Regions from separate parts of the Homo sapiens genome. Here region 1 is reported to be linked to region 2. Evidence: microRNA targets listed by miRTarBase, many of them from high-throughput screens and not tested one by one. Region 2 holds a microRNA gene; the other region holds the end of a gene's coding sequence.

Region 1 (4,393 bases), not on the chromosome of region 2:
CATTACAAAGGGACTCCTGATGGGGTCAAAACAAAGCAAAAAACGTCTTTATGAAAAATGGTCATTGGCCGGGCATGGTGGCTCACGCCTGTAATCCCAGCACTTTTGGAGGTTGAGACGGGTGGGTCACTTGAGGTCAGGAGTTCGAGACCAGTCTGGCCAACATGGTGAAACCCCATCTCTACTAAAAATACAAAAATTAGCCGGGCATGGTGGCGTGCGCCTGTAATCTCAGCTACTTGGGAGGCTGAGGCAGGAGAATGCTTGAACCTGGGAGATAAGGTTGCAGTGAGCCAGGATTGCACCACTGCACTCCAGCCTGGGCGACAAGAGTGAAACTCTCAGAAAAGAAGAATGGTCATTAAATGAAAGAATCAATAAAATCTGGTTAGTTTGTGTGAAGATACACTTAGGAAGCACATGGCTTTCAACAAAAATGTGATTTAGCGGAGAGCCTGGAGTCTGCTGGTATTTTGTCTTATCCTCCCACACCAAGGTGCGACTGTGTTCATTTATTAAATTTGATGCTCCCTGTTGATGATGTGTTCTTGGTAAATGGAATCCATGAACTTTTAATCTGTAGTTCACAACTATCCCTCCACGTGTGTTTCTTTTCCCAGGTACTGGTCTTCTTGGACATTAATCTTTGAATACTTGCTGACTGCTAAGAAATGACCAGAGGGGAAGAGGAGTTTGACATGTTAGGGCATTAAAGCAAAGGTGGATTTAAGAATTAAACCATTACATGCCCCTTCCAAAAGGCAGAAATCCATTCAAACGTGACTGTCCCAAATGCCTTATGTCAAATAAAGCAGATTGCACTGATGGACATCAGACTTGAAGGAAATGTTTCCAATTTTATATTTAAGGGGGGTGGTGGGTGGGAGGGGGCAAGTAAAGACGGAACAAGTTTAGTAGCAGTAATAGTAAATCATGTTTACATATGAGATTTATAGTCGTGGGAGGGGAATAAAGTTCTGTTATATTTCCTTGCTCGAGTTTCATACCAGATGCGTTGGTCCATAAAGGATTGTATCAAGTAGATGGGACAACATTCTGCTCTGAACGAAAAGTAATTTTAGAGACATAACCTGCTTACCAATGCCTGTCTTTGATTCATATTCTACTTTCAATAAAGCATGAAAGTGAAGAACTTGTCCTAAGTGTGGAAAAGTGTCTTCAGATTTAGACTCTTCTCCATGTCAGCTGCAGCGCCACCCGCCTTACACCTGCCCGGCCGTCTGTCTCTTGGTATTGGGTAAAGGAGGGGGCACCTGCATGTCTCCTGCAATGAGCAAGGAATTATGTCTCATGTTTTGACTTCAGAGGCTTTTTGCTTTGGTGCATTTCAGAAAGGATGGAGAACATTTATTATGTGTGAAAGCATCCTCTTCCGGTTTTGCTGTTATTCAAAAGTGGGAAATGTACCTGGCACGTTTGAAAATAAAAAATCTGACTACCTATCAGAAGAGTAAATCAGACTGAAGTACATTTGGATAACACAAGGTTTCTATAAAATTTGTTCTTCCTGTCCTCCATGTCACTGTTTCTTGGACCTCAGTTCTCTTTTTGAAAGCATTATTCCAAAATGCCCTGAGAGGGTCTCTTAGATCATTGTTTAAAAAAGGAAAAAAGTATATGGATGTGCTGTCCATCCAACTCAGGATTATCATTCTTAGCAACACGTAACCGAAGCAATATTCTTAAGAATATTGAAGGGGTTTTTTTAATTGAACTTAAGACTGGAGTTTTTCCTTTGAAAAAAAAAAAAAAGTTTTCTCTGTTGAGTCCGTCTGTGTAAGTTTGTGGCTGAGATGCTAGCTTAGGCATCTCTCTTGTTAACACTTTTCTTGGCCTTGGGTTTGTGCAAGGCTTTTTCCCCCTTTCATGAAAATGTGAACTCAGATCATGGATGGGGAAGGCAGATTTTGATTTGAGACCCGATAACCTTGGCAGCATCCCTTTTGAATAGCTCCTTTTGTCAGAGTAATTACGGCCATTTGGTAAAATTCTAACTTCGTGTTTGTGTTTCCCCTCTGTGTTTCTAATGTCTTCAGTCTGTGTCCCCTGAGGAGGCAGGGGGTCTCTAATGAGCCTATCTATGGGGGAAGGTGAGAGCTGCACACAGCCCCCTGAGAAACCATCCTAGGAGTGGAACCAAGGGACCAACTGTTCTGGCCTTGAGGTTGGCACAGGGGAAGGACTTGAAGTTGAGCTGATGGATCCTGATTTTTAGATCTCATTGTTTTATTAGCTCCAAAGAAATGAATGCAGGAGCCTAAAACTAATAACACAAACTTCTTCTTTCCCAAGGTAAAGACTTTTATAAAAGTTCGCACAATGCTTGATTGAAGCCACTTCCTTTTCCTTACAAAGAAGCTTGTTGGCCAGAGAAGGTTCTTTTTGGGGATTGACATAAACATGTTAGCAGCCCCCAGAAATCTGATATATTTTCCCCAATTTGCTGTTGATAACAGTTTTGAAATTTGTTACTTGGGTATTTTTTCCTCCTGCAATGCTACGAAATAACAGCCTTTTGTAAATCTTTCAGGCTGGTGGTACCTGCTCTGAGTACTGGCTTCTTTATTATCTCTGTCCAGGGGTGGGGTGGGCACCGAGTGAGCAGGTGATGCTGCAAGAGTCTGCCCTTGGCTCAGGGTCATCTTCCTCCTGCTCTGACAACTTGCCTTGTTCTGCCAGCACTGCTGAAAGTAACTGCAGCCCAGCGGCTCCAGTGACACTGTGAAGCTTTATTACCAAGGCAGGAGCTCAGGCCCTAGACCCGCTGAATCGGAATCTGCATCCACAGGCCACTCCTGTACTCTTTGAAACCCTGGGCTTGGGGCCTCTCCCACCCATAGTAGGCAGAGTTGCAAAGAAACGTATGCTTGTATTGAATGGTTTTGCATTGCCACCCTTCTCACTTGGTACAGGGAAAAACAGGTAAAGGGTATGACCTAAAGCCCGATTCTCGTTTCGTCTGTAATTATGAATAGATGGAGTCCATTTGCCTTCTGGACTGTGAAAAGTTCAGAGACTCTTTGTGTTGGGGTTCTAATGCCATGCATGTGTACTTTTTTATATTAGATCAGTCTCCGGTATAAGGTATTATGAAGCTTGGGTCTTTTCCCCTTGATATTTCTGACCATTCTTTAATCTGAAACGAATGTGTTCAGCATACTACACTGGTACAGATTGTCACCACGAACTGAAATATAGGCTGCATTTGGGTGTCTTCATTTCCTGGGGAGTAAGTATCTTTCTGTGTATTTATGAACTCTATTGTTTAGAATTACTGTTACCTTCCTGCCAAATTTAAAAGATATGAGTGTCCCTTTATTTCTGTGGGAGCATAATCCATAGTGAATTTTTTGGTTATTTTAAATGTGCTTTTGGTTGGTCTATGTGGTCATAGATCTGTTCATCAGACTCTGGTTAATATTGGAATCTAATGCTCAGGTTGAATAACCTGTTTTAAAAACCCAAGGGATGATTTATCTCTGTCTAAACAAACCGCTGAAGCGAAATGAGCAAGAAAGCCTGTCTTTCCTGTTACCGAATCATGGGGCAGAATCATATCCTTTCTCTTGGGTACTTTAGTCCTCAGCTCATTCAGTGTTAATAGGGGACTGCGAACAGAGTGCATGCAGATTAAAAGCCAGCGTTTTCATTTTAAGAAGATTTTCCCAGCCTGAGAAACATAGTGAGACTTCATCTCTATAAAAAAGCAAAAATTAGCCAGGTATGCCGGTGGTCCCAGCTACTCTGGAGGCTGAGGCAGGATAATTGCTTGACCCCAGGAGGTCGAGGCTGCGGTGAGCTGTGATCACACCACTGCACTCAGCTTGGGCGACAGAGTGAGACCTTGTCACAAAAAAAAAATGTGCATGTCTGTGATAACGCCCCATACTCCCACCCCCACCCCAGAGTACAGGGTTTTGTCAACAACATTTCTACTTCTGAAAGCTGGCATCACCACCCCCACCCAAAACACACACACACGCGCGCGCGCACACACACACACACACACACACACCCATCTCCTAGACATTCTGTAGGCAGAAATACTGGCTGGGGATTTATCAACATTATTCGAACCCTCTATTTTTCATTAAAGTACAAATTATAAACATTTGTAAAATGGTAGGTAGCACTTTGTTGATTTCCCTGAGCAACATTTCTGTGTCAGGTAGTGTGTGCCAGGTAGACAGTCTCATTGGCAGACAAAACCACTTCTCCATCCCATATATCTCAAACCTTGGATTTTTTTTTTTTTTTTTTTTCCATTCTGGCTGTTAATTGGGCTAAGGAGTCTGCTAGCTATCCAGATAGCACATAAACATACAGGCAAGTGTTGAAAGTGTGGAGTTGTAGAAGTTGGGCCACCTGTGTT
Region 2 (4,339 bases):
TCGCCCGCTGCCTCAGCACTCTGGTGACGTGGAATCGGGGTCCCCTCTTTCAGGGCTGATTTCTGGTAGCACGCTGACGCCTGCCAAGGCAGGGAAAGGGGACGCCGCCTCTGTCCCGGATGTAAGATGGCGGCGCGGGGGGCGGCCTGGCGGGGCGGTCACGTGGTGAGGAGTAGCGCGCGAGCCTCCTTAAGTGATCTCTAAGGTTCGTCCGGACGCACAGGAGCAGCGGAGCGCGAGACGGGTCTTGTGTCCGCACGCGTCGAGTCGTCGCAGTCGCCACCCGGGCCATCGCCGGGCCCGGTTTCACTGTTAAGGGGTTTTCGTTTGTTCCGTTTTCGCCTCCTGTAGAGCTGAACGGGAATTCCCCGAAGGGTGCTGGGGAACGGGTGGCCTGGGGACTTCCCGGCTATGCCTTGGCTGCTGTTTGGCGGAGCCGGCGGCAGCCTCTGCGGGATGCCCGCCGGCGATTATCGGCGCCGAGAGCGGGCCGGCGGCGGGTTCGACAGCGCGGCGCGGGTGGGGGCCCGGGTACCGGACTCGGCCGCAGCCCAGCCCCCACCGGGGACTCGGAGCAGGGAGGGGCGCGAGCGGCGCAGCTCGGGACGTGGCGGCAGCTCCTAGCGGGCGAAGCGCGGGAGCGCTGCTCGCTGCCTCTCGGGGGCAGTCCAGAACCAGTTGGTGTCTGACTGCGCTTTTGCCGCCCATTTCCTGCTTTCGAGCGGCTGAGGCGACGCGCTCCCCTCGGGCAGTGGAGGGAGCGGCTCTCTCCGCAGGACACCGCCGCTTTTCTCTCTTCAGAGCGGTGGCTGACGTACAGAACGCCGGCTGTATCACCCGGGCGCCGGCGCCGCCTCTCATCCCCGTAGCTCTCGGGGCGCGCCGGGAGTAGCCGAGCCGCTGGGTGCTGGGCGGGGTCTCCGGGCGCGGCGCGGGGGGAAGGCAAAGGAAAAGAAGGGGCGGCGGGCCGACGTCGGCGGCGAGGAAGGACGGAGGAGCGCCGGAGCCGCTTTGCTGCCCTCCGCGTGGTCCCGTGCCTCCCCGACACCATGGCCCTGGCTGAGGTAGTAGTTTGTGCTGTTGGTCGGGTTGTGACATTGCCCGCTGTGGAGATAACTGCGCAAGCTACTGCCTTGCTAGTGCTGGTGATGCTCAGCGCCGCGGAGGACAATGGCTGGGAATCCCCTTTGTTTTCCGGGGCGCTGCCTGGGGACAGCCCGCGAAGCCTCGGCGCCCGGCCGGCGCGGCCACCACGGAAACCGTTAGTTTCACATTTTCCTAGAAGGAATTGAGGGGAGTGGGGTGGACCGCGATGCATTTTAAAGGTTGGGAAAGAGCTAAGCCATTGGATTCCTTTTCTTGAAGGAAGGAGTGGAATTGTGTAAGATAATTGATACAGATAACTTTTTCACCCTAAAAAATTCTAACACTTCTTTCAGCAGTTAAATGCCAAATTTAGTGTGTACCTGTTTTACTTCATTCTTTAGCTGTAGGTTGGAGTGGTGTGAGCGATCTGCAGAACTGGCATTAGAGGGGCAGAAGAAGTAGACCTGATAATTAAAGTTTATGCCTTAACATTTTAGATCTGGTTTCTGATATGCTCTCTTAGTAAATCTGAGTGTGTCTTTAAAAACGTAAACCCAAAGCAATTTAAAGTTTCTCTTTAAACTTTGCAACTCGCGAATGAGAAGATTGAAATTATTTGTAGGTAATTGCACTATTCCGATTTTTTAATGTATGAGGCAAACAAATAAATTCTATGTACAGTGTGCTGTGAATGGTTTTGTTTTTTGTTTTTTCTTTTTAGTTTAACCTTGGGGCTCAGATTCTGCTGGTGTGGTGGGTTGGTTTTTTGGTTTTTATGGCCTTTGATTCTAATGTTATGTGGTACTTACATCTTTGAGGTTTTGTATGGGAGAAGAGGACTAGGAATTGAAAGTGGTTTCTAGATTTGAGTTTAAAATCTACTAACACTCATTTTGATTCCTGAGTGGCCACTACTCCTAATAGGAAAATACCTTTGCATAGAGAAAAAAGGTAGTTTGGATAACTAATGAAAATACTCAGTGCTCTAATACCCTGAAGTCTGCGTGGAAAACAAGATACTTGTATTTTTATTTTATTTTCACTGAGGGAAGTAAGTGGTCAGTTTTAGTACTTTTCGTTGAAAACTGATCTGTATTTGTACAGAATAAGTAGTTTTGAATATAATGTAATCGCAGTTTTCTATGGTTTTCTGATGCTCAGTTGAAAAACAAATAAGGCAGTTCTTTAAACCAACCAAACCCTTCAGCAGGAGTTTGATGCTTTTATCATTCAAAAGTGATCTAATATATGTGCCTTGATTGGGTTTGGTTTAGCCTTGAGAATAACCTTACTTAATCTGATCTCATCAGGATGGAGCCGCCTCATTGTGGGAAGGGCGGTGAAGAACCTTATCTTGAATCTTAAGATGCAGAAAATGCTTGAATGTTGGCTCTTGAAGTTTGCTTTTCTTGATAGCAACGCAGAGTAAATTCAGGGCTTTGTTAAGTGCTTGTTTTCTTAAATAATGAAAACCTCTGCGGTGCTGTGTCAAATCTTGGTTTATGGAGAAACTAATCATAACATGCTAATTTCATTATGATTTTATTTTCCAAAACACTTCATTCAACCAACCGAGGTAATCTTCCAACCCACTACACTCTAACATTTTTATGGAGAATCAACGGTTGTTAATCTGCACCCCAAAGTATAACAAATTCTGCTGGTAATTTAAACTTTAAGCGGATAAGCACACCAGAAATGCTCAATGTCCTATACAGATAAACTATTCATACTTTATATCTTGTGTTTTTAAAGTAAATTTTATCCACAACTACATATTGCCCAAATAGTAGTAACATTTTTGAGTTATTGGATGTAAAGGTACTTTGAGAGGTTAACTGTTTCCTAAGTTACAAGAGAAAATACTGCCACCAGCTGACTTGTTTTAATCCCATAGCTATATTTCTGCTCTAATCTCCAGTTTTAAAAATGATCTGCTAATTACATTTCTCTACACACCAACTGAAAATTACCAACTGAACATTTTCCTTGTTGACAGTTTCCCACAAGATGAATTTGATTTATCAAAAATACAGCTTTCTGAACTTAGTATTATTGACATTTACTTGGTGCAGTTAACTTTTTTGTTAAAGGTCTGTTGTCAAGCATTTAAGTAATTTGTAGTTGTAAAAAGCCACTGGTGGAAAGTAATAAGGCAGTATTTTGAGTGCCCTTCTCAATAAGTACATACTAAACCAAAGGAAAGCTGGGTTATGGTAATAACATTTTAATAAATGTCATCCTCAATTGGAAATGGAGACTGTGTTATGGTATATAGGACACACCATATGGAGAAGATTCTTGGAGAACACAGTTTTGCTTCATACTTTAAAATTCCTGATTGCTAATCTTACATAGAAAAGCTTTGTTTACAAGCTATTTTAAAATAACCTTTTGGCAGGTAGGCAAGACTGACTGGCAAGGGTGCACTCAAGACATTGTGTCTTGTGGAGTGGTCCCCAAAGAATTCCTGACAGAGGCACCTGACAGCACAAATTAGCTCTTCAGTGTATAAGCACAAAGCACCAAAAAGGCTGAGATTTCTTCCTAGCTACATGCTCTCTCCCGCTATTGTTTATTACACTCCACCCGCTCCATGGTGAAGCTGACAAAGGAGATACTATTAATTTCCTTTCCCACTGAATAATCCCCTCTGTAATTTCTACAACAAAAGGTAAATAGGACAATCATCTTCGAAAATGAATTAGGCCAGATTGGTAGTACCCAAAAGGAGAATTAATGACCATTGTCATAAACTCTGAAAAGCTGTTGGCGCTACTGATAATCTAGATAATTAAGCAAAAATTTGAAAATTATTTCTAAGATTGTCTAATGAAGTTCACTAAGTGTTTTTGTTAGGTTATCACTATTGGGCACCATGGGGAAAGCAAAATAATTGTATAGCTAGGTCATTGCCCCAAAGGAAAACAGGAAAGATGTCACATGAAGTGTTTAAGAATCAAAATGTAATTAGCTGAGTGTGGTGGTGCCTGCCTGTAGTCCCCGCTGAGGTGGGAGGATCTCATGAGCCCAGGACTTTGAGGCTGCAGTGAGCCATGATTGCACCACTGCAGCCTGGGCAACAGAGTGAGACTGTCAAAAAAAAAAAAAAATCAATGTGAGCTCAGTGCAGTGATGTGCACCTATAATCCCAGGTACTCTGGAGGCTGAGGCAGGAGAGTCACTGGAGCCCAGTAGTTTGAGACCTGCCTGGACAAAATAGTTGAGATTCTGTCTCAAGAAATTAAATAAA

The links. The annotated mature microRNA hsa-let-7i-3p reads CUGCGCAAGCUACUGCCUUGCU and lies in region 2 at 1,117-1,138, shown strand. An mRNA with a match to its seed (bases 2 to 7 or 8) in the 3' UTR can be bound and repressed. Matches are read on the target gene's strand: a 7mer-m8 pairs with bases 2 to 8, a 7mer-A1 pairs with bases 2 to 7 and ends in A, and an 8mer does both.
Region 1: miRTarBase lists USP48 as a target of hsa-let-7i-3p. The part of its 3' UTR that is shown has no 7-base or 8-base seed match.

What each region holds. Positions count from the first base shown.
Region 1 is chr1:21,675,667-21,680,059 of GRCh38, reverse strand. It overlaps USP48 (ubiquitin specific peptidase 48), which reads left to right. Exons shown (of 27, transcript NM_032236.8): 27 at 621-1,762. The coding sequence ends at 643. Among named protein-coding and RNA genes, the nearest start is that of RAP1GAP, 8.5 kb to the right of the region's middle.
Region 2 is chr12:62,602,631-62,606,969 of GRCh38, forward strand. MIRLET7I (microRNA let-7i) reads left to right here and starts at 1,056; the gene lies at 1,056-1,139. It overlaps LINC01465 (long intergenic non-protein coding RNA 1465), which reads right to left and starts at 804. Exons shown (of 1, transcript NR_121682.1): 1 at 1-804. MIRLET7IHG (MIRLET7I host gene) reads left to right here and starts at 113. Exons shown (of 2, transcript NR_186001.1): 1 at 113-205. RefSeq lists enhancers at 1-452, 1-76, 157-346, 453-974, 975-1,496 and silencers at 427-736, 827-1,126.